Regions from separate parts of the Homo sapiens genome. Here all the other regions are linked to region 1. The links come from fine-mapping of genetic effects on gene expression. A gene starts in region 1. Each other region holds a variant in brackets. All regions are shown on one strand. Distances are between the middles of the regions.

Region 1 (8,140 bases):
AGTATGGCTGCAATTTATTTTGCTGCTTCTTATTAAAGGATAGTCTAATTCCTCTCCCCTTCAGTCTGGTGTGTCTTCAGTGCCTTGACTAATAGAATGAGGTAGAAACGACACTCTTAGACTTCTAGAGCAATGCAGTTTCCACCTTCTGGGAACTCTTGCTCTAGAGAAATTAAGTATGACAGCCCTCAAACTGCCATGCTGAAGGAAGCCGAAGCCAGCCACATGGAGAGACTGCGTGGATAAGAGCAATGCCTGTGCAGTCCCCAGCTGTTCCAGCCAGCCTACACTAAGTGCCAGATGTGGGTGCAAGGGACTTCAACTAATTCTGGCCTCGGCCTCCAGGGGTCTGCCACCATATAAAAGAGTACAAGCAAATATAGCCCAGCTGAGCTCTTGAACCCCCAAAACCATGAGAGGTGAGTTTTGGGATGGTTGATTAGGCAGAAATAGTTAACCTGAATAATCTCTCATAGTGAAAACGTATTTCTTACCTTTGTAAAGTCCTTTTAAGAATCCTGGGAACCACCCAATGCTGCTATTCTCCACCAGGCAGCTCAGCAATTCAGGCTGCTCTGGTCTTGTAGACTCTTAGATCATGATCTTTTCTCTAAAATTTCCACAGCAGGAGAACAGAACACTGGGACATTTTGTGCCGGTGATTAAATACTTCAGCCTGGAAATGATACATACCCACCCCTTCCATTTGTAGCCCATTGGCCAATTCATATAAATATGACTAACTTCTGAGGGGTGTAGGAGCATCCTCCTCTGTGGGGCAGGGAAAGAGAGGGGGACTAGATAGGATCTACCACACTCTTCTTCCCCTCTCTCCTGCTAATGATGTTACCTCATCAGAGGCCTAGGAATTCCTTTGCCTACTAGGAACCACATATTTTTGTGTAATCATAGCTGCCCTGCAGTGCCACCATCACTCTGGGGGAAAAAGCCTTTTCTCCTAGTACCAGGTACCAATCTTCTTAAACCTGTAAATCCACGTTTTAAACATAAACATGGATCACACACTGACCTAGCATAGCATTACAGCATAACAAATTGCCCCAAATCTTAGTGGCTTGATATTATGTAACAACATTGATTACCTCACAGTTTCCGTGGGTGGAGGTCCCAGCTAAGCTAAGCTTTGCCCCCTGGTTCTGGGTCATTTATAAGGCTCACCCGTCTCAAGAGCACTGGTGACAGATTTGCTTCTAGGTCACTCATGTGGTTGTTTGAAGATCCAGTTCTTTGAGGGCTGTTGGGCTGAGGTCTCAGTTGCTTAGGCTGCAGACCTCCCTTGTCACATGGAGCTCTCCACACAGAGTCGCAGAGTGAGTGTGCAAGAGGAAAAGAAGTTTCCAGCAAAATGGAAGTCTCAGGTTTTTGTAACCTTAACAAAGAAGTGATAATCCATCAGTTTTCCCATCTTCTGTTAGAAGTGGGTCACCAGGCCCAACCCACACTCAAGAGGAAAGGATCACACAAGGGCCTGAATACCAGGAGGGAGAGATCTTGGGAGGAGTGCCAGAAGCTGTCTATCCCAAGTACATCTATGGGATGGGTATTCTGCAATACAGGGGACACAAAGATATATAAGGTAAAGCCCTTGACCTTGAAGAGTTTTTAGTAGTGGTTGGAGGAGTGAGGGTAGAGGGTGATAGCTACATATAAATGCATTATACTATGAAAGGTATGTGGTGAAGTTATTGTATTAGTCCATTTTCACGCTGCTGATAAAGACATACCCGAGACGGGGTAATTTATACAGGAAAAAGTGTTTATTCAACTCACAGTTCCTCATGGCTGGGGAAGCCTCACAATCATGGTGGAAGGCACGGAGGAGTAAGTCATGTCTTACGCGGATGGCAGCAGGCCAAAAGAGAGACAGCTTGTGCAGGGAAATTACCATTTTTAAAACCATCAGATCTCATGAGACTTATTCACTATCACGAGAACAACATGGGAAAGACCCGCCCCCATGATTCAATTATCTCCCATGGGGTCCCTCCCACAACACGTGGGAATTAGGGGAGCTACAAAATGTGATTTGGATGGGGACACAGAGCCAAACCATATCAGTTATACAGAAGAGCAATTGGATCTGAGAAGAGACAGCAGCTCATTCTGCATGAGCTATCAGAGGTACAGTGTGGACTACATGACAGAGACTGAATGATTCACTGGACAACTGGAGAAGAGTGTTCTAATCAGAATGAAGGAGCAAGGAGACACTGAAGTACACAATGTGCTTTGGGAATGGGGAGTAGCTTTGTGTTACTAGGACACAGGGAACTCTGGGAATAGTGGAATGTAAAGTGGGCAAAACTGAAGCTGGGCTGTGAGAGGCATTGTGTATCATGCTAAGTGAAGTTAACTTTAGTATAAGAAAAATAGACATTACAGCGTATTGTTGCCTCCAAATAATAATATTAGTGTTGGCAATATTGTGGCAAAAACCACAATTATGTTTGCACCAACCTAATATGTAAGCTTTTTGAGTTAGAATATGTGCTAGGCATTATTCTTATCTCATATAATCTTCACAGCCACCTTTTGGAGCAGGTTCTATTACTACCCGCATTTTAAGAGAACTTTGGTGTGGACTAGTTTTAGCCCCAAATCACATGGCTAGGAAGTGTCAGGGCTAAGATGCCAATCATGGTCTGACAGCAACAGGTCCCTTACCCTGGTCTGTGACTCCTTACGGCAAGGTCAGTCCCATACTTCCTTGCTACTTTCTTCCTACCATCCTTAGTCTGAAGGCTAAGACTTCAGTTTTTGTTAAAGATAGGAAATGCTTTGGTAATGGCTGTCTTTCATGCTGAAGATGCTCTCTCTCCTTTTAGCTTTTCATTTTGTAAATTTTCCAACATATGCATGAGTAGGTAAAGTAGCAAAATGAACTTAGCTTCAACACTGACTGATGTTGCACCACTTTTCTTTCACCTATCTTCTTTCCATTCCCTACATTTTATTTCTGGAGCATTGTAAAACAAATTCTACACATCATTCTATCATGAAAGTGATAAAATGACAGAATTCCTGTTTATGAGTCACTTCTTTTTACAAGCACAGTAAAATGTTTTCCATTGAGTTTATGGAATTGATATGTATGTACTTAATAACAGTGAGTCTTAGTAGCATTCATTGCAAAGACATTTTCTTAAATTTCAATAGTTTGTAAACCCTTGAGTGTTTTATTTTAATGATAAGGGCTAGGTCCACATAGTTTTTAGCTAATACTAATTAATGCATAATGCAGGCCAGATCTTCTCTTCAGGCAAAATTAACTTCCCTCTCCTATAAGTATTGATTGAAATTTGCTCTCATGTGCCCTGAAGTACTTTTAGTCTTATTGCTGTCTTTGTTTTAAGCCGAGGGCAGAAACCACATCCTTTTCATGGTCTATTAACCACATTACCGAGGTTCATGGTTTGCACAACTAGTAAACACATACAAAGCACCCTTTGAGAAAGCTTCCTCATCCTTTAATTGTAATCCAGTCTTATATATTAACGGTGTGGTGGTCCCAAGGTACAGATTCATCTAATGTGACCTGGAAAGAAATTTGGAAATCACTTAAGGCTACCCTCATTTTAGATCTGACAAAACTGTAGTCAAGAGAAATGTGAGGTCCATTTTACTGCAGGTGGCAATAGTCTTAATTGACTCATTTTATCGGCTAGTACCCATGTTTTTAAGAGTTTCTATGAAATTAACATTTTTTGTAAAAAAAATGCAATTGCATAGGCTAGTTTCATCAATATCCTAAATTAGTGATGCTTCAATATACACATGCAGAGTACTTAAATTTTCCTCTCTCTTCAGCAGGAGATACTCACCACGTCCCTCCATTTTTCATTAAACATACGTGTACCTTGCAGCCCGTTGCTTTTATATTTGCTATCATTGAAGAGGGGATGGATTTTAAAATTACTGGCCATGTTTCCCTTTAGAGAAGCCCACACGCGCCAACCCTGCCCTTATTGGAGCCTGGGCAGCAGCGGTGCATGTTCTAACTTAGGCAACGTTGGGTCATCTGTTTATTGTCAGCTTGGCGGTCAGGAAGAAAGGGCGGTGGTTGCTGAGGTAACCGACACCCCGGGCAACGGCAAGTGGAGGCGGGAGGGGGCGTGGCCTCGACGGGCAAGCGGCGATAAGAGGTGGCGTCCTCCGCGGCATTGCGAGCACCGCCAGTCTGCGCCGCTAGGCGTAGGCGGGGTGGCCCTTGCGTCTCCCGCTTCCTTGAAAAACCCGGCGGGCGAGCGAGGCTGCGGGCCGGCCGCTGCCCTTCCCCACACTCCCCGCCGAGAAGCCTCGCTCGGCGCCCAACATGGCGGGTGGGCGCTGCGGCCCGCAGCTAACGGCGCTCCTGGCCGCCTGGATCGCGGCTGTGGCGGCGACGGCAGGCCCCGAGGAGGCCGCGCTGCCGCCGGAGCAGAGCCGGGTCCAGCCCATGACCGCCTCCAACTGGACGCTGGTGATGGAGGGCGAGTGGATGCTGAAATTGTGAGTGTGCCCGCCCGCCCCGGACGCCGCAGTGTCCTCGCGGGCGTCACCCTCCCAAGCCCGCGCGGCCCGGTGGCGATCCCGCATTGCCGCTTGGGCTCAACCTAAAACCCCGGACCAGGCTTGCCAACAACCTGCGGCGCCGGTGCCGGGCCGCTTGCGATCCTGCACTGCCGCTGGGCTCGACCTGGGGTCCGCGGACCCGCCTTACCAACGACCTGCGGCTGTGGGGCCCGGCCGCTCGCGCCGCGCATGCGCGCCGAGCCCTCGCGGTGACAGCCGAGGGTGCAGCGCGTCCCCTTGCTTTGGGGGACAGTGTTTTCGGGGTGGAGTGGGCAGCTTCCCATAGGGAGGAGAAGGGAAGGAAGAAAATCTGCAAGCAAACCGTGTGCTTTTAGATACAGATATGTATTGGAAGAGAAAGGACATTCAGTGACATCCACGTGCAGTATGAATACGTAGCACAGGCTAAGCAAGTTACCTGTTGAAGAAATTGCAGCACGGTGAAGGCAGGCCATTTGTGTCGTAGTCTTCCGTTTGAAGACCTGGAGATGTCATTGTGAGAATAAAACATAAATATGGATGCCTTTTAAATTTTACAGTATGATTTCAAATAAATGTTGATACTTATTATAACTTGTAAAGGTAGGACTTTCTGAGTAATATTAATAATTGTGCCATAAAGAAAAGAAGATACGCATTGCCCCTTTTAACAATAGAAAGCAAATGGTGGATAGTGCCTTTTCTTTAAGGAGATGGGAAACTACAGTTTTGAGTTAGGAGAAAGAAAGGGATTTGTTGATTATAGTTTAACCTTATAATAGGAAGTGACCATTTGAAAGAGGCTTGCAGTGGATGGTGGGCAGATGTCTGAGCGGGCTTGAGAGACCATCATGGTGGGCTTGCAGACTCTCTCTCTCTCTCTCTCTCTCTCTCTCTCTCTCTCTCTCTCTCTCCCCCTCCCTCCCTCCCTCCCTCCCTCCCTCCCCCTCTCTCTCTCTCTCCTCTCTCTCTTCTCTCTCTCTCTCTCTCCCTCCCTCCCTCCCTCTCTCTCTCTCTCCTCTCTCTCCTCTCTCTCTCTCTCTCTCCCTCCTCTCTCTCTCTCTCTCTCTCTGTCTCTCTCTCCCCTCCCACAACTCCTTTCCACCCTACCTGCCCCCCTCCCGCCCCCACCCCCCAAACATAAAATCTTTCAGGAAATTGCCACATCTCTTTAGCCTGTGGTTTCTGGCAATCTGTATACTACTATTGAATCTTTGTTTTACGTTGAGGACACAGACAGAAAATTGGATCTTTCCTTTATCCAAGACCAAGTTTTGATTCTTTCAATTTAAATTGCAAGCAGGTGCCTATGGAGTGAAAACCTCAGTGTGAGATCAGAGCCAAAATTTATGTCACACAGCAGATTACATTGCTCGAAGAACATAAGGCATATCACCCCTTCAAATGTGCATTTACCTCTTAGTCACAAAGAAGGGGATATTTTAGACCTCCAAATGAAATACCCTTGGTATCATAATAAATCAATGAAATTATTAAAGGGAACTGTAGACATGAATTATTAAAATATTCCACTTAACTATTTTTGGAAGAAGGTGAGGGGGTCATATTCTATTTGAGAAACTTTTAAAATAAGTGGAGCTGTGTTAAGACTTCCATGTTTGTAATAATTTTAAGAGTTTGGGATAAACTGCATTTTGTCAGCCAATACTACAGAAAGTTCTCTTTTCAGTAGGTGCTTACAAAATGGACTTTTTCCTAGATGTCATCTTTCAGGGTAAAACTGAGTTTGCATATGTATGTAAGAAAAGTTAAAACAGAAAGGCCTCCTCATTTTTAATGACTTCAACTCCTCTATGGTTCCTTTTGGAATTGCTTTTTTTTTGGTAATAGAATTAAGAACACTAAAGCCTCAATAAGTTTTTGAGGGAGAGCCAACAACATCTGTGCTTGGCCATGTTGATGGTTCAAATTTTACTTTTTTATGAATGTATAAACCTAAACATAGTAATCAATTGCTCTGAGTTTGTCATGTGTCCAGTTGTATGGAATATGCTTGGCCTGTGATGCCAGATGAGTCTTGTAATCTGGAAGTAAGCTGTGTAGACACAAGGTCATTTTAGTAGACATTCTCTTTTTATCGAGTGCACTTCAGAATAGGTGGCTAGGAAGCAAGGCTGTCAATGAAAATTGATCCAAACCATTCCATCCAACTTCTTTATACGCACTAAAACCCAAGTGCTCATCCTGAAGAAATATTTTGGTTCTTATCTATTTGTGATCTATTTTTTTCTGTATTATCAGGTGATACTCCTCCTCCTTGCTGTGAAAAAAACTCCAGTACTTAAAAAAATATAAAATTCATTATATCCTCCATACCACTAGAGGCCTGCTATGAATTTCTAAGAATTCATTTAAATAGCCTATACGTTACCAGATTTTTTTTTTTATGTATATAACAGAGAAAAACAAAATGCATTAAAATTAGCTTCATCTTGACACTTAGTTCAGATGAGCTGGTCATACATAAATGGAAATTGTTAGTAGTTCAAAGATGTTGTAGTTAACTTCTTTAAAGAAACAGATTGAGAAGCTTTTGTTGTAGTTAACTTCTTTAAAGACACAGATTGAGAAGCTTTCCGATATCAAAATGTATTCATTACTTTGAATGAGAGTTCTTTATTTGTTCATTTGCTTATATGCGCTCTTTCATCTGGGAATTTTTTCTTTTATACGCCACGTCATACAGATCCCCTCTAATGCAGTTTCTGGTTATATTGGTATAGATAATTTATTCTTAAGAATCTAGCAGTATTTGGCAGCCCTGAGACATGAAAAGCTTCTATTATGAAATTAAATTTGGTTATTTTTTCTTAGTCTTTCAAACAGTCAATTTTTTGGATTCTTGCAATTGAATTTCCAGTGTTTTAAAAATGTATGAGTTAAAAGTATATTTGCAGTAATTCACCGTTTCTATTCTGATGATTTTAGAAATCTGAAAAGTTCTCCCATTGCTACATACATTTTCTTTAATGCTATGGGCTTATTGTTGTTATTATTATTTTTTAGATGGAGTCTCACTTTGTCGCCCAGGCTGGAGCGCAGTGGTGCGATTTCAGCTCAGTGTACCCTCTGCCTCCCGGGCTCAAGCAATTCTCCTGCCTCAGCCTCCCAAGTAGCTGGGAATACAGGCACCCGGCTATGGGCTTATTGTATACTCGTTTGCCCTTTTTCTGAATTAGGAAAAATGATCTAATCTTTAAACTACTGTATGATGCATGCTTTTCTCTATTGCCATTGTTTTATACTATTCTTCATTCAGTTCCTTTGCAACCTTTTGCTACTTTCAACATTTGCTTGGCTCTCATTATGTCAGTCCTGGAGAAAATGACTTTTGTTCTTTTGAAACATGGAAGTATGTAATATGATACATTCTGGTGGCTTTTTCCCCCAGAAGAAATAGATAGCCAAGTGGCTTAATTTTGACATTCAAGCTGATACTCAGAAGAAAAGTATGTCTTTGGGTTAGTTTACCTCTGTAAAGCATATAAATCTTTATAAATTATTGCCTTTTCTTATTTTTGTTTTTGGAATGATCATGTTTCAAAATTTAAATTAAACACCTGGTGAT
Region 2 (8,140 bases), 24 kb after region 1:
TTTAGTCACACTTTGTACGGTGATAACATAGAATGTTAACGCTTTTAGGTTTGAATTTCTCACTTATAGTAAAGCTTATTAACTCTTTCTGATTTATCTCTATGTATATTTTTCAATTGAGTCAATTTAAAGTTCAGATGGCGTTCAGATGTATCACCAGTAGCTATTTTAATTTTTATTATCTGTAACATCGTTATTTTAATGCATTTGCTTTCTACTTGTTTTCATAATTTATAGTGCAAAGGATGGGATATTCCGCCGTTATCGTGGCCCAGGAATCTTCGAAGACCTGCAGAATTATATCTTAGAGAAGAAATGGCAATCAGTCGAGCCTCTGACTGGCTGGAAATCCCCGGCTTCTCTAACGTAACTCAATTTTTTAAGACAAGGTGTTACTAATAAAACAGGAGGTTTTAAGTTAATAGCCTGTGGGTCTCAAAAAAGCCTATGTTTTACTTCACATTTACTTCCAATTACCCAGATTACTCATGGCCATGCTTAGCCCATGCAGTATTTCTGATTTTGTGACCTACATATGTTTCAGCTGGTTTTTAGTATACTGGGAATTAAGTAGCCAGATTTGAGTGGGTTACAGAACGCCTCTTTTCCAGCTTTTACACTAAGCCACAATGACTATTTTTCTCTTTACAAAATATGGTATTGAACATCATTTACCATTCTTTCTTCCTTTTAAGTTATTGATGAGACAGAGGAATAACTGTTTATTGAATTATAGTTTATGAAGGAATTGCTATTATATATTATGTGGAAAACAAAACCTGTGGAGTCTTTGGCTGCCTCGCAAAATACCACAGGGGATAGCTTTGGCCTTGACGGCAAACTGTATAATACTTGGTGAGGTAGATTAGGCCAAACCATAACAGCTTTTTCCACAGTTGGTTTTAGTTTTGAATGGATTGTCATATATATAGATAATTTTATGTTAGTATATACAAGTGTAAGAAATTTCCCTACTGAAAAAGGAGCAAATCAAGCAATATTTCAGGAGTAAATCATCTAGTGGCATCTATATTAATATTAAGGAAACACATAGCTTACTCTAAAAACAACTCTCACATTTCATTCTACAACCATTTGAGCACTGATTTAGCCAGATACTTTCCTAGGTGCTAGGTATTCAACACTGAACAAGACAGACATTCACCTCAGGTACAGAGAATCATAGTTGGGATGAGGGTGGATAAAAAACACAACAACATATTTTACAAAGATGGGATAGCTCTGGGGTTATGGACCTGCTCTTCTAGATGGAGGGAGTAGGAGACATTTCTCTGAAGGGACGCCTCTAGGTGAGATCTGAATGATAGAAGGAACTAGCTTAGGCAAAGAGCAGAGGGAAGATTATTCCCAGGAATGGGTATGGCATATGCATAAGCCCCAGTTTGGAAAGGAGCTTGGTGTACTTAAGGAGCAGAATGGTGACCAGGGTCAAGCATAGTGAAAGGGAATGTAGGATGAGCTGAGTAAGAGGGGCAGGCTGAAGCCAGGTCATGCAGGGCCTGTGGCCACAGGAAAGAAGTTGGAAGTGATCAGCACACACAAGGAGAAGGTGACCCTTAGGAGAGGAGATTGGAGAGGGCAAGAATGGATGAAGTGAGTTGAGGCTTAGAGTGGTAGCTTGTGTCAGGTGGCAGCAGTGGGGATGTGGGGATGGAGAGGCTGAGTGGATTTTAAATATGTTATGAAGGTAGGCTTGGCCAAGGTGAAGGAGAAGAAGGATTCATTAATAAAAACTTACAAGTTTCTGGTTTGAGTACATGATGGATCTTGGTACTTGTTATTGCCTTGGGCAAGAGAAAATTAAGGATTCTGTATAAATCTTGTTGGGTTTGAGATGCAGACTTTGTAGAACTGTCACAGTGGATGCTGTATTAGTCCATTCTTGCATTGCTATAAAGGAATACTTGAGACTGGGTAATTTATAAAGAAAAGATGTTTAATTGGCTCATGGTTCTACAGGCTGTACAGGAAGGATGATGCTGGCATCTGCTTGGCTTCTGGGGAGGCTTCAGGAAACTTATAATCATGGTGGAAGGCGAAGGGGAAGCACATAACATCACATGGCCAGAGTAGGAGCAAGAGAGAAGGATGGAGGTGCCACACACTGTTAAACAACCAAATCTCCTGAGAGATCACTCATTATCAAGAGAATAGCACCAAGTGGATGGTGCTAAACTATTCATGAGAATCCGCCCCCATGATCCACTCTCTTTCCACCAGACCCCACCTCCAGCATTAGGGATTACAATTTGTTAGGAATAATGCTTACAATTTTAAGAAATTGAACACTTGAACAAAGGATATTTAGCAAAGCAATTTTATTTTTGCGCAGAGAGGTGCCTTTTTGGCCAGTCGCCATGAGAGCACACTTGAACAAAGGAGTACGAGAGCCTTTATTTTTGACGCAAGTCTTGCCCCTGTATCCTTTTTTTATTGGCTGGGGTCAGGTGTATAAACTAATTTTAGTTGGCTAAACATTTGAATTTTTTTAGATAAGGTGGGCACATAGAAGAAAGAGGAAAGGGGAAAGGGTGTCTGTAGTGAGTCAGAAAGTTGTTTTTTTTTTTTTAAATAAGGAAAGGAATGTGAGTTGGTACTGATAATGGCTGGTATTGTGGCATGCCTGCGCATTTAACAAAGGCAGAAAGGAAAAAGGAAAAAAAGAGGGGGTGGTTAACTCTGAATTAAAAGATTGATTAGGCTATTTGAAGGGAAACCTTATCATATCTCACAAATTGAACATACGATTTGGGTGGGGATACAGATTCAAAGCATATCAGATGCATGGAAATGGGTCCCCATGAAGAATTCAGGAACACAAAAAAACCTACAGACAATGTTGAGGTGAGGGGAACACCTAGAAAGAAGGAAAAAGAGAAGAGTACTTGGGGATGAGTCATGGGCCACCCCCAAATTAAGAAACTGTGTTGAGAAGTCAGCCAAAGGAAACTGAAAATGAGTACCAGAGAGGCAACATGAAAACCAAGGTCTGCCATTTTCCAGAAGCCAAATGAGTGTTCAAGAAGAAGGGCGTAGTCTCTTGTATCCCATGTTACTAAGAGGCGAAGGGAGATCAGGTCTGAGACATGGACATTGAATGAAACATGGTGAGGTCATCATGGCCTTGACAATCTGTTCCTGTAGTGGTGAGGGTGGAAGCCAGATTTTAATCGATTAAAGGTACAGTAGAGAAGAAACAGCATGTGTAGAGTAATCTGGAGAAATTTATCTGTGAAGCTGGAGGGTCATGTGAGGTCCAGGGATACTCTTTTTAAAGGGTAAAAGAGAGTAGAGCATGTTCATATGCCAGTGAGACTGTTCTAGGAGAGAGAGAGAAGTTGCTCGTGCAGGAAGGGAGGATGAGAGAAAGAACCAAGTCCTAATAAGACAAAATGGATAGGATCCAAGGCACAAGTGGAGGAATTGGACTGTGATAAGAGAGTTAGACTTTTCCTGTCATAACAAGAGAAGGTGGATGCAGGTGGACACCAGGCTCAGATTTGGTAGTGGGAAGATGAGAGAAAGCACATGGTGGCTTCTGATTTCACAGTGACATATGAGGAGTGCTTGTTAGCTGAGTACATGGGGATGGGAAGATGTGTACGTTTTGAAGAGAAGGAAAAGGAAATGAGCTATTTTCTTAGAGCTTAGAAAGTGCTGGACAGTATTACGTGTCCACTTAGGTTTGGGACTATGAAGCAGAAAGAACTGTCATCTGGTTATGTGATGTTTTTTCCCTGGAGACATTCAGCTGCTCAGTGTTGAGATTTTTGCCGGGTAGGCACAATGAAAGGAGAAAGGGCCAAGGAGTTGGAATAGATTTACAGCAGAGTGATTCAAATGATAGCCACTGAATCTAAGCTCTGTAAGAACAGATATGAATCTGGGAGAGGGGGCAATATTTAGCAAGAAGTGGAGGGAAATAGACCAGTCCTCCTGACCTGATTTTCATTTTTTTTTTATAGTATATATGATCACTGTTTCTTCTCTTTATTTTTTTTTAAGGATGTCTGGAATGGCTGGTCTTTTTAGCATCTCTGGCAAGATATGGGTAAGTAATCTTAAATAAAACGTTTATATTTGCAGAGAGGTTAAGAATAAAAATACAGCTTTTAAGCAATAGGAAAACAAACATTTATAAGTACATTTATAATTTCACTTTTTTTCTTAAGCCATGCAACTACTCTCATGTGGGGTTTCCAGTGGTAATGTCGTCATGTAGAAGGGCATAATCTGAACAGTAACCTGTAACTACTGTGTCGAGGTCTTATTTTCTTAAATCAGTGGTGAAGTCTTTCATCCAAGCAAAACGGCTTATGTGATTTTACTTTATCTTATGTATTTCTTTGTAGGCATATCTCCCTACAAAGGAAAGATTGTCTAAGACTGAAAGTAGTTCTGTATGTCAGGGATTAACAAACTCTAGCCTGTGGATGGGCTACCTGTTTTTGTAAATAAAATTTTACTGGAAGACAGCTACATTTATTCATTACCTATTGTCTATGACTGCTTTCATGCTACAATGGTACAGTTGAATAGTTGTGACAGACACA[G/A]AGAATTGTGGTTCACAAGCCTGTAATATTTACAATCTGGCCTTTAAGTAGTAGACCCCTGCTATATGTGATCGTATAATTTCTCTGAGTCATTTCAGTGGGTTAGAACTGTTATTCAGGTTTAATTTTTGAACCATTATATAATGTTGAGTATGTCCCATAACCTTTTATTTCCCTTCTCTGTAGGGGAGGACTAAATCCAACCAGATTGAACAAAATGGCTCTGGAATTAAATATAGCTCAAAATATTTCAAAAAGTCTTAGAAGCGAGTCTCCCTATATATGTCTTTTCTATGCTATGATTGTAGGTTATGGTGTCATGTTTGGAACATAATATTCAAAGAGTTTGTGAAGACTCTTTTTCTGTTTCTCATACACATTCATATATGTTGAAAGACATTTAAGAAAAACCTTTTGTATTCCACTTTCTCAGTTCCATTTATATTCTGCCTTGTGAGATAGAATACCTACCACAAGGTTTTTTGGTTGTTTATTTTTTACAACAGAGGCGAATTGAAGACTTGGTTTCAGTCTTTCAGGTTAAAATTTAACTTTTTTTGGCATTTGTCTCACAATAAACAATAACTAATATTTCCCCCTCTCCAGATAGTTTGAATTTCATGTGGTTTCCTTCTGCTGCTTTCTTAACATTGGTGAGAACTTTAATCAAGGGCTAAGAATTATGAATTGCAAACTGGGAATTGAAAAGAGATTCTGCCTTTTGCAGTATGTTGATATTAAAGACTGACAAAATCATGTAGCCTGATGGCTGTTTGAGCCGTGTAGCATTATACTGTCTAATTCAACAGAAAAATTGGAGTAGATGGTTGTCAGGCAGCATTGACTGTGAAATTTTAGCACCAAACCTATGATAAGTGCAATAGAATTTGTTCTGCAGGTTAAGAAGAGCTTAGATGGAAGCTGATTATGGCCTTCATTGACTGTAAAAGAGAAGTTTTACTTTCAAAGACGATAGCAGGGAAGATACATAATGGCCCTGACCTCATATAGCTTGTAATTTGGAGCTTAGACAAACAAGTTTAAATAAGGAGTTACAGTTTTTCATTATGTCATGCAGATGATTACAATGTGTAACATTTAGAGTGTGTCAAGGCCAGGAGTGGGTGTTTTATCTTTGTACACACAGTGCCCAGCTATGGGCAACACAGATGTATTCTGTGTGGATGCATTAAACTGGAGAGAAAGAGCCGTTTGGAGAACAGAATGTGATCCATGTCTGAATAACTAATGAATATGTTTTTCTTAATGATTGAGAAGTAGAATATATATGTTATATAAATGTATATTTATAATTTCCAGATATTTCCAAAAGGAACCAAAAATGATCATTTTATAAGATAAACTAAAATTTGGCACACAAGTAATTACATTTTATAATTGTAAAATGTAGAATGCAAAATGTACAATTATATAAATGTATAATTGTAAAATAGTTTTATCTAGTATTAATACCATGTGTTTTCTTTTTTATAAGCATTTGCATGGAGTAATTTTTCTATTTTCAACCTTTTGATTATGTTTTAAATAAATCTTATAAAAAGTATATAGCAAGATATAATTCTTTTAACTGATGAATTTAATCCATTTATATTTATTGGGATCACTAAAACATTTGTCCTGATTGTAGGGTGTGTGTATGTAGGGGAATGGAAGAGAGTTGCACATAAAAGAACGCAAATGATACAGTGTTATTTTGATCTCCGTGTGTGTGTGTGTGTGTGCATTACCTTAATAATTTGTGAAATCTGATACTGCCCTCCATATCAGCATGTAGCCTCCCCAAGCCTCTTGCCAACTTTTGTGATTTATTCTTAGAAATAAGTCCCCATCCTTTCATCAGATCTGTAGGTAGGTCTCTTGCCACCTGTGTTTCTAGAATGTGGCCCTTGTCCTCTGATTTATAAGGCACACCATCTCTGACCTAAAGAGACCCAGTCCTTGGCTACCCATCAGGTCTCTGGTCCCCACTCCCACCTTTAGTTATGGTCTTGCCTTCCTGTCTTTATAGAGCCACTTACTCAGCGAGTCCTTCCAGCTGACTGCCCTGCCTGCTCAGTTAGCTCATTTAGCTGACTCTTCCTTTAGTCAGAGTTCCTCAAATCCATGTTGAATGTATAATTGTGGCAAACGTATTTGTTTTTTAACTCATGTCTAGATCATATGAAACTACAATGCAAATATATTAATAATGAACAGAAGAAACAACTGTACATGGTGAGACAGAAATAGACTAGGGATGGAAGGTGGAACCAAAAAAGTGTAAAGTCTCAGAGAAAGAAGATTATAAAGATGGAAGAAGGAAAGACGTAGAATGGCTAATGCCAGTGAGACAAGATTGTTTATGCCTATCCATAGTCTCTTTATCTTACTGAAATATCTGGATACATGTACAGATAGAAATCAGTCTTTCCTCAGCAACAGTCTTCCCTGGATGGGTAGCTGGTTAGATGTAAGTATATCTGCAGGGAAGATGACAAAACAGTATAATGGATGTTTATATGGCGTTTTTGTGTGTATATAGGAAAATGCTTAGAGATCAACAGTAGTTTTCTCTGATATGGGTGATTTTTAAAAACGTTTTTTCTATAACTTCTATTTTCTTCTGTAATGAAAAAATGAAAACAATATATTTAGATCAGAGCCTATTGAGCTAGTAATTATCTAGAAGATATCTAGAAGATCAGAGATATATCTAGAAGATCAGCGCCTACTGAATTAGTGATTCCTTAAGGGGCTTGGGTTTCTTTCTGCCTTAGAAGTGAAGCCAACTTGCTAGGTTGCACATTCTGGAGATAAAAGCTGGTCCTCAAGATTCTAGGATCACCTGGTGATGAGACACTCACATGGCCGAATTCCTATCAACTCAGGAGTTGGTTTGGTTTGCATTTGGCCTTCTTAACTTCATACCAACCTCCCCTATGTTCTTGCTTGAGTAAACTGTTGAGGTGAGAAAGTCCCTTGAATAGTCTTATGAGGCAGTTCCTGTCAGCTTCCTGCTGTTACCCTGAATCCCAGGGATCCTCGATATGTCATTCATACCACAATATGGACAAGAGTAGATGATCTCCAGTGTTCTTTCCATCACTAAATTTAAATTTTCTTTCCAATTCACTCATGATGGCGCTCACCTGCATATTTTAATTTTTATATAAACTCACAGAAGTAATTACCTCATTAGCTGTTAATATCTATCCTCACAAATAGTCTCAACATTTTACCCATCTCACAGATGGAGTCACTGAGGCCTAGGAGATGGGACAGTTAGAGGAGTTTCTCAGAGAGTTGACATCTTCAAAGGACAAAATTGATTTTGATTTTATATTATAGTAGCAATATCCAATTTCTTTAAAATTGTATGCAACTTAGTGACTAAATGAAAAATGTTAATACTCTAATGGATAGTACAAGGTGAGGTGAATATCATAAAAGCAATGTGCAGAAGATTGAACTTCAGGAAGCATCACTGCCAAGTCTGGTGGCATAGTTAGGATTAGAAGTTCTTGGGTTTTGTGTGTGGCACATGTGTGGAGAGAGACTGTCCAGTC
Region 3 (8,140 bases), 40 kb after region 1:
TGTGATGTGCCTTTTTGTGCTCATATAGATAGTGGGTTTTCTCTGTGATTTACTAGGTGACCAAATAATCACTACCAAATTTCTTAAAATGTGTTTTCTAGGTAGATTTGAACAAAATTATTTTTCTCCCTTTCTTAAATTAGGAAATATTTCATTTTGGCAATTGCTTTTTCTTTTTAAGTATGTGCTCTTCATTAATCAGTGTCATATTTTCCTTTATTCTAACTAGAACTAGAAGGGAAGAAGGGAAACTCAATATATATTGCTTCTGCTGTGTGCTAGTAACTCTTCTAAGTCCTTTAAAAGCAGTCTTCCCAAATCCTTGCACTGCTCCACACTTCTTCTGGGGCCAGGTGCCTCTGGATTTGCATGTCTTTATTCCAGACTATTTTTGAGACTGCATAAAGATGTTCATGAGACTTTCTAATTGTTGAATTTTATGTGGGAGTTTAAATAAGCTCATGTTTCTTTTTAGTTCTTGAAGTTTTTGAGGCTTTGAGACTTCCATTGATAATTTGAAAATATGATTCTTAGATTTCTTAAAAGTAATAGAAACCCAATATCAAGGATTTTAGGAAAACAAATGAAAATTTATTAGCTCACATAACTGAAAAGCCCAGGGACATTCTAGCTTCAAGCACGGCCCAAGTGATGTTAGGTTTCTCTGTCTGTGTGGCTTATTCATAAGAGCTGTTGATAGTCCTTGCGCATTTTCTCTGTTTAAAAATCCCTGAAGAAAAAGAGGCTGTTTCTCCTGACTCTGGCCCAGAACCTCTGTGGAGTACTTTGAGTGGCTTAGCATGTCACATTTCTGAACCAATCACCATGACCAATAGGGTCACTGAGCTTTCTACAAGACACAAAATACCGAGCGTAAAGGACCCTTTGCCCTTGCTGCCCACATGCCCTGCTGAAGTCATTATGGTCCATGAAATCTCCAGAGACAGGTGGAGAAGCCCTAAATGGGGCTAGGATGCCAACCAGAGAATCTGTCCTATATGACCATAGTTTCAAGATAGAAAAAACTGTCACTTACCCTCTATTTTTATTTCACAGCTAAACACACTCAATTGATTACCGAATTACCATTGTTTATTCAGAGGATATTCCTCTTTCTTCCCTCCATAGAGCAGAATCGGAGATCAGAGGAGGCTCATAGAGCTGAACAGTTGCAGGATGCGGAGGAGGAAAAAGATGATTCAAATGAAGAAGAAAACAAAGACAGCCTTGTAGATGATGAAGAAGAGAAAGAAGATCTTGGCGATGAGGATGAAGCAGAGGAAGAAGAGGAGGAGGACAACTTGGCTGCTGGTGTGGATGAGGAGAGAAGTGAGGCCAATGATCAGGGGCCCCCAGGAGAGGACGGTGTGACCCGGGAGGAAGTAGAGCCTGAGGAGGCTGAAGAAGGCATCTCTGAGCAACCCTGCCCAGCTGACACAGAGGTGGTGGAAGACTCCTTGAGGCAGCGTAAAAGTCAGCATGCTGACAAGGGACTGTAGATTTAATGATGCGTTTTCAAGAATACACACCAAAACAATATGTCAGCTTCCCTTTGGCCTGCAGTTTGTACCAAATCCTTAATTTTTCCTGAATGAGCAAGCTTCTCTTAAAAGATGCTCTCTAGTCATTTGGTCTCATGGCAGTAAGCCTCATGTATACTAAGGAGAGTCTTCCAGGTGTGACAATCAGGATATAGAAAAACAAACGTAGTGTTGGGATCTGTTTGGAGACTGGGATGGGAACAAGTTCATTTACTTAGGGGTCAGAGAGTCTCGACCAGAGGAGGCCATTCCCAGTCCTAATCAGCACCTTCCAGAGACAAGGCTGCAGGCCCTGTGAAATGAAAGCCAAGCAGGAGCCTTGGCTCCTGAGCATCCCCAAAGTGTAACGTAGAAGCCTTGCATCCTTTTCTTGTGTAAAGTATTTATTTTTGTCAAATTGCAGGAAACATCAGGCACCACAGTGCATGAAAAATCTTTCACAGCTAGAAATTGAAAGGGCCTTGGGTATAGAGAGCAGCTCAGAAGTCATCCCAGCCCTCTGAATCTCCTGTGCTATGTTTTATTTCTTACCTTTAATTTTTCCAGCATTTCCACCATGGGCATTCAGGCTCTCCACACTCTTCACTATTATCTCTTGGTCAGAGGACTCCAATAACAGCCAGGTTTACATGAACTGTGTTTGTTCATTCTGACCTAAGGGGTTTAGATAATCAGTAACCATAACCCCTGAAGCTGTGACTGCCAAACATCTCAAATGAAATGTTGTGGCCATCAGAGACTCAAAAGGAAGTAAGGATTTTACAAGACAGATTAAAAAAAAATTGTTTTGTCCAAAATATAGTTGTTGTTGATTTTTTTTTAAGTTTTCTAAGCAATATTTTTCAAGCCAGAAGTCCTCTAAGTCTTGCCAGTACAAGGTAGTCTTGTGAAGAAAAGTTGAATACTGTTTTGTTTTCATCTCAAGGGGTTCCCTGGGTCTTGAACTACTTTAATAATAACTAAAAAACCACTTCTGATTTTCCTTCAGTGATGTGCTTTTGGTGAAAGAATTAATGAACTCCAGTACCTGAAAGTGAAAGATTTGATTTTGTTTCCATCTTCTGTAATCTTCCAAAGAATTATATCTTTGTAAATCTCTCAATACTCAATCTACTGTAAGTACCCAGGGAGGCTAATTTCCTTAAAAAAAAAAAATCTATCCATCTACTTCTCTCTTACCTGATTTATGTGTTAGAATAAATTCATGAAATTCGATTCCAAGCATACGAAAGATGCCTAAAGTTGATTCTATGCTCCTTAGATCCAGACAGAATAATGAGTACAGGTTTATGAAATTCTAAAAGTTTCTGTCGTCTTTAAAAAGGAACGTGCAGTATATTTCTATCTGGCTGTTTAGATAACCCTTTCCTTGTATTAATTGTGAGCACGGAGCTCACTGGTGGGGGAGGTTCTGAAACTCTCTGCCCTCCTGTGGTTGAATGAAGATGTTGCAAGACTTGCACAAAGGAGGTTATTCTTCTGACAGCATCAACTTTTAGAGATGGTTCTTTTTCATCTTTCCAATTCAGTTACTTGACAGTCTCCTTCCCCAGTATGCTGAAGTTTGTTAAGAGTCACCAGTAATTGTGCTTTTCAGACAGTAGTGCAGCTTCAAAATCGAGGCCATCACTGGGCTGATGGGCTGGGAGAACCTTGCCATGTGCCTGCCTGTTTCCTGCCCCCTTAGTCACTGCCCATTTCCTGCCCCCTTGGTCGCTGACACACCTTCACCCAAAGTGCCATGGTTCTGATGGTGGCAGTTCCATCTCCCTGACATCAGGAAGCTTTTCTCGATCAGAGCAGAGCGGGGCCTGCCTGCCCTCGTGTCACTGGATTTCTTTCTCTTATAATCAGCTGAAACAGAGTTCTCAAAGAACAGTAAACTCAGGTTCAGAGGTATTATGGAATAAGAATGGTTTCATAGTTTGGCTTTTCTATATAATTCCTCCCTCTCAAACTGAAATATTCATTTTTTTAGTGGAGTATTTGACTAGAGAGAAGGTAAGGCAGAAATACAGTCTACACTGGCTTTTAAAAATGTAAAGCCAATTTCCAACCGGACCCCAAATAGTACAGGTTGAACATTCCGTTCCAACAATCCAAAACCCCAAATGCTCCAAAATCTTAAACTTTGAGTTCCAGCATTCCGTCAGAAGTGGAAAATTTTACACCTGACCTCATTTGACAGGTGGCAGTTACAGTGCAATCAAAACTTTGTTCCATGCCCAAGATTATTAAAAATATTGGATAAAATTACCTTCAAGCTATGTTGTATAAGGTGTATATAAAACAAATGAATTTTGTGTTTAGACTTGGGTCTACTCCCAAGATACCTCATTATATATATACAAAAATCCCCAAATCCAAAAACATTTGAAACACTTCTGGTCCCACACATTTTGGATAAGGGATATTTGACCTATATCTAATTATATAATAAGAAAAATGTATTTTCTTTTTTTTTTTTTTTTGAGATGGAGTTTCACTCTTGTTGTCGCCCAGGCTGCAATGGCACAATCTTGGCTTACTACAACCTCCGCCTCCCTAGTTCAAGGGATTCTCCTGCCTCAGCCTCCCAGGTAGCTGGGATTACAGGCATGTGCCACCATGCCTGGCTAATTTTGTATTTTTAGTAGAGACGGGGTTTCGCCATGTTGGTCAGACTGGTCTTGAACTCCTGACCTCAGGTGATCCGCCCGCCTCAGCCTCCCAACGTGCTGGGATTACAGGTGTGAGCCACCGTACCTGGCAGAAAATGTACTTTCTTTCTCAGAAATACTTTTAAAAAAAATTGAAGGGTGAGGAGAAAAACATCTTGGAGAAGAGGACCCATTAAAACTTTAAATATCTGTGGGAACCATTTTTCCTGATTTTCCCTTTTTTAACATCATGGCAAAGATGGGTTTTTTTCCAACAAAATTTAATTTAATATCTTTCCACTTGAAGATTTTAGGTTTGTTTTCAATACTTAATGAATATAAAACTAAAGGAGAAAAGCCAACCTGAAATAATTTAAACTTTATATGAACATTTCGATAAGAGTTTGTGGATTTTTTCTGTAGATAATATATTTGATCCGGAACTCAAGTGCATGGAAACATGATTTTGATTTTTAAAATCTAAAAAAAAAAAAAATTAAAATCATGCTTCCCTCTATTGCAGTATCAGTTATTTAGTCACAGAATGGTATTTTATGTAAATTAAAATTAGGTGAATGCAATGCAGGTAACTGGTTTTGGAATGGGAATGTGCAGTGCTTTATGTTTGGGGAGTTGGAGCAGGGTATCTTTTCATCAATTAGAAGGAAAGTTTGAAACTTCTGATTACCTTTATGTTGGTTTCTCTTATTATTTGTCTCTTGCTAGATCTGCTAAACCAACC[C/T]AGCTTGCTCAGAGATCTCATATTGAAGCAACATACAGGCAATCCACATCTTTCTTTCCCTTTGAAGTATAGTCATTGGATGGGATGAGGGACAGGGCCTGTTGGGTTCACAGGGCCTTGCACTGCATGGGCACATACTTAAAAGCTCTTGTGCATGGAATCCCTGTCTGTTAGCCACAGGCCTCTTTAGCTCTATACATTCAAAATAACTACTGTAGTAGAAAATAGATAAGCTTCAGCTGAGTTGGCTTTTGATAGTGGAAAAAAAACAAAATTTGACTTTTTATGGCCAAAATTCCTTGTTGACAGCTGTGATGTTCTAATATGATTTGGGAATATGTCAGTCTACAGAACCTGCATCCTGTAAAAACACCTTTGGGGTAGACGATAAAAGTCATTTTTAAGGCAAATACTTACCATGTGACTTTTTATTACCAAATGCATCAGTAGTGGAGCTGGTATGTTGTTTCATAGGATGGAAACATTAGAAGTCCAGAGAAAAATAAATTTTAAAAAAAGGTGGAAAAGTTACGGCAAACCTGAGATTTCAGCATAAAATCTTTAGTATGAAGTGAGAGAAAGAAGAGGGAGGCTGGTTCTGTTGCTCGTATCAATAGGTTATCTGTGTCCCTCATCTTGGTGTTACAGTGTTATTTCTGTCAGTATTATGAATATGTGGTTGACCCATCCTGTCAAATGTACCAACATTTTCGAAAGAATTCATTCAAATCTCTTATGCCAACAGAAAAGTTCCTTCTTGTTTAATATCTCTTTACCTCAGTCCTACATTTTGATTCTCTGGAGGAGATTTTAGCTTGTCTTAAAAAGCCAAATTTGGAGTCATCAAGCCTGCTGAACCTGATGGGGCAGCTTTTTGAACAGCTTTCTGGAAGTAAGAACTTCAGTTGAAAAGCCCTTTGATCGCTTCAGCCCGGGACATGCCCTTCAGATGGCTTATTCTCAGTAAAGCTTTATGTAGACTGTGACACTGTATATGTGTGACTCGTACAACTTTGACGTGTTTCTGAAGTGGTTTAATCGTATTTGTTATTAGCTTCTTTGTGGAAATGCAATTTTTATACTAAAAACATTGCTTATTTGCAATGCAATATGTTATAAATTTGTTGTTTATATTACTGGTATTAGTCTTAGCCTAATGAACCTAATTATTTTTCTTTCTGTATTCTTTGCTTCCTCAAATAGCATCTGCAGCAATTGGAATGAGAAATCCAGATATGTGTTTCAAGTAGTACATTGCCTGAATCACAAATCACTTGATCACAGTATTGTATATAATCCCTGATCCTATTTGTTTCATTTTATTGTAAATTCCCATTTGCATCAAAACCTAATGATAGTGATTGGTAAGTAAAAACAAATGGTGTATTGCTTTTCATACAAGTGTTTTCACAAAAGCCATTTGCCTAGGCAGCAAAAAATATTAATTTGTTAAAAAAAATTTTCCTTCGTGTCCATCCTCCATCTAGTCTGTTCATTCATTCTCTCTCTTTCTCCCTTCCTGACTCGGTGAAACTCAGACCATGTGCCCTTTAGTTGCTCTGGAAAGTGCACAAAACCAAGGCAGGGTCCAAAGATCCAAGGCTCTTCCAGCCAGTGTGTTGCCATCAGAAACCTCTGGGGTCTCCCTCTGTCCTGAGGTCTTGGGGTAGCCAGATGGCAAGGGATGCTACTAATCCCCCAAGACACTGTGGATTGGTCTTGTCTTTGGGGCTTTCAGAAAACTCCCTTCTACACCTAACTCTCCCCACCACTATAGTGGAAAAGCATCAAGGTGGTAAGGTGGGTCCTTGAAACACCCTCAGAGACTGAAACAATGGAGATTGGATTTTTGTCTTTTGGAAGATGGTGGGGGATGTGTGTAGTGAGAAGACAGTTACTAAACCTGCATACCACCAAGGCCCTCCCTCAGAGATACTGGCTCAGAATGCTTATTTGCCTATACAGAGAAAAATGTCTGTCGTGCTGTCTGCCTAGATGACTTTGGTTATTCATCCTTGCCTATAGCAAAATGCAGCTTTCAAGCCAACAACACTGAATTACAAATTTAACCCCCTGCTTTGCTCTAGTCTTGAATGCTCTTTGGAACATATTTCACAGTAATAGAAATTCTTTCTTGGAACATGTGAGCTTCTTGAGATTGATAACTGTATTACGACAGTCCAGCCTGTGCTAACAGACCCGCAAATCTCGGGGGCTTTAAGAACAAGAATTGTATTACTGATTCACATAGCCCAGGCCAGGCATCCCAGGCAGGCTCTGTCCCATGCAGGTTTTTCTGGGCCTCAAGGTCAAGGGAGGCTTTGCTGTTTAACATGTGGCTGCTGGGCCGGGCATGGTGGCTCACGCCTGTAATCCCAGCACTTTGGGAGGCCGAGGGAGGTGGATCACCTGAGATCAAGAGTTTGAGACCAGCCTTAGTAACATGGCGAAACCCTGTCTCTACTAAAAATACAAAAATAAGCCAGGCGTAATGGCAGGTGCGTATAATCCCAGCTACTCAGGAGGCTGAGGCAGGAGAATTAATTGAACTCGGGAGGCAGAGATTACAGTGAGCCGAGATCATGCCTTTGCACTCCAGCCTTGGCAACAGTGCGAGACTCCATCTCAAAACAAACAACCAAAAAAACGTGGCTGCTAAGGTGGCTGTGATCATTTCCATCCCAGTCAGTCAGAGGAGTAAGAGATGGAGGAACATTGCTGAGAGATTTTAAAGCGAGGCTGCCACACGTGCATCATTTATGTTCACATTTCCTGTGAGAGGACTTAGTCACAGGGTCATACCTAACTTAAAGGAAGACTAGGATGTGTAATCTTGCTGTGTGCTTAAGAACAAAGGGAACTTGAGAGCTAGCAATCTCTTGCCACAGTGACTTTTTCTTGCCCACCTTTGTGAGCCTAGGACCTTCTATAGAGTAAGCTCCTGGGACATAGTATGAATGCACATATGGCAGGAGAGGGCAGAGTACATATGGCCCCAGTGCTGGAGGTCTTCCTGCTGGACTTGACCACTGTGGCTCTTCAAGGTACCAGAGTTTTCAAACTGAGAATTGTCATTTCATGGAGTTTGTATTTTACTTGGGAAGGTGAATATTAGCAGGAAAAGAGTTACAAGTGAAAAAGTTAACAAATGCTATATGAGTTTATAAAAAGGAACCTGACCTAGGTTGAGGGTGTAGATGGTATGTGTGACCAGGAGG
Region 4 (8,140 bases), 140 kb after region 1:
ACTACTAGTGACTATTTCTAATTTGACTCAGAAAGAACCTGTAGCTAGAAAGAATGGCTGTGAGTTGATTATCAGCTACCGCATTTTTGAAGGTAAAGAGGGCTTCCTTTTCTGTAATCCATATCATCTGGATTGTTCCCATAGATAAAACTCCCCAGATAAATGGTCTACTCACTACTGTACTCAGTCTGCAGACAGAGCCTCAACAAGAAGAATGCCATTCTGTGAATCCTCACTATGCATTTTAATTTGCTACAGACATATCCTAAAAGAGAGCTTTCAGTCACTGACTCTCTATTAAATGTGGCAGAAAGAATATACTCTTTGTGTTAATAAAAATATGTGCCAGTCATTTTGTGTTAAGGACTGTTTAGGTAATAAAAAATGGTCTCATGCCACATAAGATTTGGCAAGCCTACCTTGAATCATAAACCTTACATTTGTCAAATTTTACATTCCTTGGGAAAACGATTACCTGCCTGATTATTATTGCATTCAGTTCATATTAAATGTATGCATTATTTTTTCAGGGTGCCAGAATGTGAAAGTCATCGACAAGACATTGGTGAGGAAAAATCCTTTGGCCGTTTCCAAGATCTGACAGTGCACAATATTTTCCCATCTGTATTATTTTTTTTCAGCATGTATTACTTGACAAAGAGACACTGTGCAGAGGGTGACCACAGTCTGTAATTCCCCACTTCAATACAAAGGGTGTCGTTCTTTTCCAACAAAATAGCAATCCCTTTTATTTCATTGCTTTTGACTTTTCAATGGGTGTCCTAGGAACCTTTTAGAAAGAAATGGACTTTCATCCTGGAAATATATTAACTGTTAAAAAGAAAACATTGAAAATGTGTTTAGACAACGTCATCCCCTGGCAGGCTAAAGTGCTGTATCCTTTAGTAAAATTGGAGGTAGCAAACACTAAGGTGAAAAGATAATGATCTCATTGTTTATTAACCTGTATTCTGTTTACATGTCTTTAAAACAGTGGTTCTTAAATTGTAAGCTCAGGTTCAAAGTGTTGGTAATGCCTGATTCACAACTTTGAGAAGGTAGCACTGGAGAGAATTGGAATGGGTGGCGGTAATTGGTGATACTTCTTTGAATGTAGATTTCCAATCACATCTTTAGTGTCTGAATATATCCAAATGTTTTAGGATGTATGTTACTTCTTAGAGAGAAATAAAGCATTTTTGGGAAGAATATATCTAGTCCTTTTGTAACAATATGAAATTTTAATTTTATTTTCTGAACCTTAATTACCTCCTCGTTTCCTTTCTGCATACCTTATTGGTTATCCTATACCTCCTACTTCTCTTTCTTTACTCTTTTGATTCTTTACCATTGATAACCATGTGCAAGGGTAGCTACATAATGTGTGAGGACTATGCCAAATTAAAATATGGGCCCCTTGTTCAAAAAGCAAGACAAAACCCTTTTCCTTCCTTCCACAGTTTTTCTCTTAAGCTGTCATGGAGACTTGCTGTTTCATGTCATGCTTCCTTGGGCATGGGGATACCCACATGGCAAGCGTAGAGCCTTCCAGGTGCCTGGGGTATTGCCTTACAACTTGCCTTGATCTTACCTGTGCCCATGCCCAGAACCCTGCTGGGGGTGCAGGGCAAAAATACTAAGCAGAATGCCTGAGCCAGCAACCAAGAACTCACTTAGCAGACATGGGGAGGTGGCAGGAGATGGAACAATGTATGATGCTAGGCTCTCAGTGTCCCCGGCACAAGTTCCATTGTTGCATCGTGCATCACTTATAAAACAAATTCAATGATAACATTATTAAGTATTTCAAGCCAATAACCACAGAGCATCAAACCCTAAGCCCAAGTCCCCTTTCTGAGCATGGAGCCCTGTCCACTGCATGAGGAGCATGCCCATGAAGCCCTGATCACGTGACTTTTATATTCATTCCCAAACCAAGCATTTTACAAATTGGAGGTGAACTAGGTAGCCAAAGTAATTTTGAAGTTGATTTTTCGTCATCTCTCTGGTTGTTCAACCACTGTGAGGTACTTAATGAAACAATTCAGAGAATCACTACCTGAAAATATGATTATTATATTATGTTTTATTATTATTATGCTTTATTATTCCCAGAACTCTTTCTCTCTCCCTTTCTCCTTCTAAATGCTAGGAGATTCCTAAATATTAGCATGAACACACAAAAAACTTTTTTCTGAAATTATATACCAGTCTGGTAAAAAATAATCACTTAACTTTATGAAAAAGAAAAGTTATCCCTTAACTTTTTCTCAAAATACGCAGAGTAAATATTTCTATCATATCATATAATTGTTTTATGCTTTTCCAATTAATATTGATCAATGAATAAGTATATAGTAAGCACCTCTAATTCCCTCAACAGATTCAAAATGCCTTCTCTGTTGGCACAGAATTTCCATTTTGACTACATCACAGTGTGTGGTTGTGTGGGCGCTTGCTTAAAAGTTGATAACTTCCCAGAAAATAGAGATCTCCAAGTGGTGTTTTATGTAAGGTTTATGCAAGTAACAGTGAGAATGGGGATTACTGGTCTTAATTCGTGAGTTTCTCATAATTTTTAAGATTCCCTGAGCCACAATAACTCCTTGAATGTAGATTTTCATTTATTTTTTCAGAGTTGGAATATATCTGAATGCTTTTTGTTTGATAATTTTTTCATAATCAAAGATATACAGCTGTTTGCTTTTACTTTTTTTTAATGAGTGATATGGACCCAATTGTAACAGTACTGAAATCAAAAGTGTGTAATGGTTAAAAGAGGAATGGTGTGTGTTAGTTGTACAATCCCTTCCAAGAGTTTTGAAACTTAGGCTTGATAGACAGATTTCTTTGAGGAAGCCAACAAACGCCTCTCTTCCTAAGTTTCTTGAAATATGTTGGCGGGAGGGGTAACAGGGCTTCATTACGGCCGCCTCTGCCTTTTGTGTATGTTATTTTGTGGATATAGTGCTCTAGAGCAGTTTCTCAAGCTTTGATAGTGCATCAGAATCAATGGCAGGGCTCGCTGAAACAGATTGCTGGGCCCCACACCATGGATTCTGTTGCAGCCATCTATGTGAGCCAGCTATTGGGTGTGGGCTCCAGGCAGAGAGGCCAAGCCTCACCTTAAAAGGCCAGCTGTTCCTTAGCCAATTGATACCTTTTCCATTGAATTGTATTTCTTATTGACATATGAAATTCATACAGCGAGGTGTGTAAGGTGCTGAAACCTGAGTGTATCGGTGGCTACACTTTACATTTACACCTATATGCCTACCTCCCAGATAAAAATACAGAACATTTTCATCATCTCCAAACATACTCCTTCTACCAGAGATAAACCTATGCCGATTTCCATTGCCATTGATTGGTTTTCACTGGCCTTACACTTCACATAAGTGGGACCATACAGTGTGCACTTTTGTGTTTAGTTTCTTTTGCTTAACATATGTGAAGTCCATTCATGTTTTTGAGTGTATCAGAAGTTAGTTCTGATTATTGCTCTGTAGTAATCCATTGTAGGAATGTACCACAATTTATCTATCTCTTATCCTATTGGGTTTTTTTCCAGTTTTCTGCTGGAAGTTGATTCTAAATGATTTTTGCAAAAATGCAAATTCAGTGTTATTTTATAATTTTTCAAGAAATGCAAGACATTCAGATTTTTATGTAAAAAATTTTAAATATTGGACGATATTTAACATTTTGAACACTGAGCAGGTCATGTTAAACATGGATGTGGCCCACAAGCCACAAGTCTGAACCCTAAAACATTTTATCCTCACAGATGTTTTCCTCATGGCTGAAATCACTCTTATGCCCTGATACAGAATAATGCCTGAGACCTGTAGCAGTGATGGGTGCCTGCCAACAGAAATTGCCAGAATCTCCTTTGTTTAAGCTTATTTATATTCAGCTACCTGGAAGAATGTGGGTGTGAAACAAACCTTCTTCTCTTTACGAGGCTTGGGGAGCCCAGGTTCCCAGGCCTGTAGGAATGAATTGAATAGTATTGATGCCTCTTAGCGTGATGTTTGCAGACTGCATTTGGGTCATTGCTGTGTTATTCATTTGCTTGTTTATCTTGCCAAAACATTGGCGTTTGTGAAACAGCTTTAGAGGGCTGTGGTGGATTAGGAAA[C/G]CATGAAAGGAAGTTGTGGCTTGTTCTCAAACAGAGAGAAAAGACTTTTCTCTTCATTGTAAAATTCATAACTTATTTACTGTCTGATGGACTATGTTCCATGTCAGTTGCATAGCAACAAAATAAAGTTTGTCCGTTTAGGAAAGTCCGAAGATTTCTTTTAACATAAAGACAGGATGCTTTCCGAACTTATATTTGCCTCAGCGTGCATTCTGTCACATGCCAATTATAGAACAACATCAGGATGACAGTTTATTTTAGGTAATGTAAATGTTAGCTCAAATGATAGGAGGCTATTATTATATGTTTATGTGATGGGAAATCTCATCTATTCTAAAAGATGCAATTTCCTGTTCTTACCCAAATCAAACTTGAGCAATAGGTGTCTTCTTTCCTCCCTAATGTACTTGCCCATTGTTGGAGGAAAGAAAAAGATACTTTTTTATTTTTAAATCCAGTTATCTGTTTGCTTTTCCACTGACATTTTTCTGATCTTAGATAATGAGTATAAGTTCTATTGAAAGTTTTCCAGGACCTTCTAAAAATTAAGAATTGTGTTACCCTGAATGATGCCAAAAGAAGAGCTGGAATTCAAGTGAGTGATAGGCTTGATTTTGTTTGTTCCTTTGATTCAGCATCACAGGGGAAAAGAACCTTGCTTGGTTTCCTATGTATCTTTTCTGGTTAGATCATCTGTCTTTAACGCTGATTTATTTTCCATTACAGTCAACATCCTGAGTCTGTTTCTAACAGTGGAATCTTCATATTGATAGAGTCTTTCATGGTAAGATTCTTTACATGGTATGTTCGAGCTTTCTTACTAAACTTAATGAAGATCAAGACTAACCTGCTCAAAAGCACTGAGTTAGAATCCTGAAGATCTGAATGATTAGCTGGGTGAACTGTTATGTAATCTGAGGACCCTCAGATGCTCAGCTGAGAAATGAGGGCGGCAGCATCTGTCTACCTCTCTGGGTCATTATGAACACAGCATGGTGAAATAGGTGAGAATTTATCATGAACTGTAAATCAACAGTCAAAGGAAAATATTATTTTATATTAATAGTTTAATAATGATTATTATCAGGAAAGAGAATAAAAGACATTCTAATAAGTATTTTATTTTATAGTATTTATTTAGAGAAAAGTTGAATATTTTACAGAGTAAAATAAACATCACCACAGATTTTACCACAGAGAGATAAATGTTATTTATATTGGGTGAATATCATCTCAGACTTTGCTGTGTTTGAATAATCAGTAGCAACTGGATAGATAGAAGTGGTTTTGAAGCCACCTTTGCAAAAATTATAACAATGAGAAAATTATGACAGTGAAAAAGACCTGATCTAATCAACTTCCATCTTACCTTTGACCTCTGAACTCTCCATGGTCATTCCTGGGCTTGGGCCAAGCTAACATTGGGAGATATTTAGTTTATAGTTTAAATAATAACAGCCCTTCTTAAAAACTAAACAGCCCTTGTAAAGCTAAGGAGGATGAGAGGAGCCTAAATTCTGTTAAGATGTAGGCCTAAAGGATGATCAGCCTTTATTCCAGGGGTCACAAAATTTGGAACTTCCCCAATTACTCCTGCAGATAACATCACCATTGTGTACCCTAAGATTGGCCTTTTGAGATGTCTTTTCAGTCTTTGGCATTTCTGAGGACTGGGCGGCCCCACACTGATCCATGACTCTTGACGCAGCTGGTCCTGTGGCCCCCACCCAGAAGCAGACTCAGTGCGCAAGGACCATTTTCCAAACTCCTATGATTACATCCTTAGCCAGTCAGCATTACCCATTCCCTAGCCAGCCAAACTACCTTTGAAAAATCCTCACCTTTGGATTTTCAAGGAAGTTGATTTGAGTAATAATAAAGCTCTGGTCTCCTGTTTAGATGGCTCTACATGTATTAAACTCTTTCTGTATTGCCAATTTGTGGCTTGAAAATTTGGCTCTATCTGTGCAGTGGGCAAAATGAACCTGTTGGATGGTTACAGCTTTACTAAAATAGGACTATACAATACATGTTATATTTGAGTAAGAGATTCAATTTATTTTTACTTGAATTTGTAGAAGGAAAAGTAAAGTTGGAAACATTTAAAATTAAGGTAATTTTTTTTCAAAAAGATATATCGTAGATTAAAAGTGCCTACACAATGTATTTGGAAAATTATGAAAACTTAAAAGATTAAAGTAATTTTTGATTTATGGCATACACTTTCTTTAATTTTAGCACCAGTTAACTCATTGCTATAAAAAATGAAGTAGTCTCTTACATCTACTCTCCTTTTTTCCTCTTCTCTTCCCCTTTAGTGTGTGTACATATATATATATATGGATATAAAAGGATATATGTATATATCCTTTTTTTGAGATGAAGTCTCACTCTGTCATCCAGGCTGGAGTACAGTGGTGTGATCTTGGCTCACTGTAACTTCTGCCTCCTGAGTTCATGTGATTCTCCTGCCTCAGCCTCCTGAGTAGCTGGGATTGCACTCATGTGCCACCACATCTGGCTAATTTTTGTATTTTTAGTAGAGATGGGGTTTTACCATGTTGGCCAGGCTGGTCTTGAACTCCTAACTTCAGGTGATCCCCCCCCACCTCGGCCTCCTAAAGTGCTGAGATTACAGGCATAAGCCACTGCACCCGCTTTTTAGGGCCAGGCGCAGTGGCTCACGCCTGTAATCCTAGCACTTTGGGAGGCTGAGGCGGGTGGATCACGAGGTCAGAAGATCGAGATCATCCTGACTAACACAGTGAAACTCCGTCTCTACTAAAAATACAAAAAATTAACTGGGCGTTGTGGCAGGCGCCTGTAGTCCTAGCTACTGCGGAGGCTGAGGCAGGAGAATGGCATGAACCCGGGAGGCGGAGCTTGCAGTGAGCAGAGATCACACCACTGCACTCCAGCCTGGGTGACAGAGCCAGACTCCATCTCAAAAAAAAAAAAAAAAATATATATATATATATATATGTATGTATATATATAATTTTTAAATTATCAAAGTATAAATCATTGTCTTCTCTATCATTGATTTCCAAAATTGTTTAATACTGGTTTTCATTTAAATGGGCTCGGTACTTATAATTGTCATAGCTTCTCCATTCTCTGGTTCTTACCTTTGATTCACCTCCTGGTTCCCTAGATTTCACTGGCCAACTGTAATTTCAAAAATAGCTGGTATTCTTTAAGTTTGTGCATGTTTAAAAATCTACTTGATGTTCTTGTATTTGAATGACACCATGGATAGGTATACTACTTTGGGGTCACATTTTCTGTTTGTAGACATTTTGGATTGCTTTCTGGCATTGAATTTTATGTGAAGAAATAAAAACTGGCTTACTCTTTTGCTCGTGATGTTTTAACATAATCTCCCCACATCCACTTTCCAAACCCAATGTCTAAAAAATTATTTCTTTGTCTTTGAATTTCAATGACTTAAGCTAAGTTAAAGCTAAATGTCACATGGCTTACAATTGTGAAGCACAGCTATGCCTAACCCACTGTATTTTATTTTAAATTTGAATATACAAAAAACAACCAGCATAAGTCTCATATCAATTATTAACATATATTCTTACAACATTGTTCTCTACTTTTCTATGTGATCCTTACCAAACACATTATAATGACATTAATAGCAATGGTTATTATATTATAAATTATTGAACATTTTTTCTTTGACAACAAACTTCCTTAGAGGTTTTTGTTATCCAGACCAGTGCTATCTGGTGAATGTGCTGTGATGATGAAAATGTTACCCGCACTTCCAATATAGTAGCCATCAGCCACATGTGGCTATTGGGTGCTTGAAATGTGTCTAGTTTCAATGCTTCATTTTATTTAATTTTAATTAATTTAAATTTAAGTAGTCATATGTGCCTAGTGGGTGTGTATTGAATAGCACAGATCTAGATGTTATGAATAAAATTGAGCACTGGGGAAACGTAATCTAATAGACTCAAGACTAGTTTAAGTTGACCAACCCTG

What was found. PIP is the estimated chance that this variant, and not a neighbour inherited with it, causes the effect.
Region 2: its variant is fine-mapped to the expression of TMX4 in whole blood (TOPMed, PIP above 0.99).
Region 3: its variant is fine-mapped to the expression of TMX4 in whole blood (TOPMed, PIP above 0.99).
Region 4: its variant is fine-mapped to the expression of TMX4 in whole blood (TOPMed, PIP above 0.99).

The regions. Positions count from the first base shown.
Region 1 is chr20:8,015,807-8,023,946 of GRCh38, reverse strand. It overlaps TMX4 (thioredoxin related transmembrane protein 4), which reads left to right and starts at 4,186. Exons shown (of 8, transcript NM_021156.4): 1 at 4,186-4,509. The coding sequence starts at 4,334. It overlaps TMX4-AS1 (TMX4 antisense RNA 1), which reads right to left and starts at 4,041. Exons shown (of 7, transcript NR_184034.1): 1 at 3,843-4,041; 2 at 2,686-3,556; 3 at 1,792-1,888; 4 at 1,498-1,566; 5 at 1,180-1,390; 6 at 495-676. RefSeq lists silencers at 4,186-4,425, 4,536-4,675.
Region 2 is chr20:7,991,958-8,000,097 of GRCh38, reverse strand. TMX4 (thioredoxin related transmembrane protein 4) reads left to right here. Exons shown (of 8, transcript NM_021156.4): 4 at 238-366; 5 at 4,027-4,072. Among named protein-coding and RNA genes, the nearest start is that of TMX4, 24 kb to the left of the region's middle. The variant G/A (reference allele first, on the strand shown) is at 4,575.
Region 3 is chr20:7,975,610-7,983,749 of GRCh38, reverse strand. TMX4 (thioredoxin related transmembrane protein 4) reads left to right here. Exons shown (of 8, transcript NM_021156.4): 8 at 1,129-6,404. The coding sequence ends at 1,499. Among named protein-coding and RNA genes, the nearest start is that of HAO1, 39 kb to the right of the region's middle. The variant C/T (reference allele first, on the strand shown) is at 4,923.
Region 4 is chr20:7,876,054-7,884,193 of GRCh38, reverse strand. HAO1 (hydroxyacid oxidase 1) reads left to right here. Exons shown (of 8, transcript NM_017545.3): 8 at 531-1,209. The coding sequence ends at 601. Among named protein-coding and RNA genes, the nearest start is that of HAO1, 60 kb to the left of the region's middle. The variant C/G (reference allele first, on the strand shown) is at 4,142.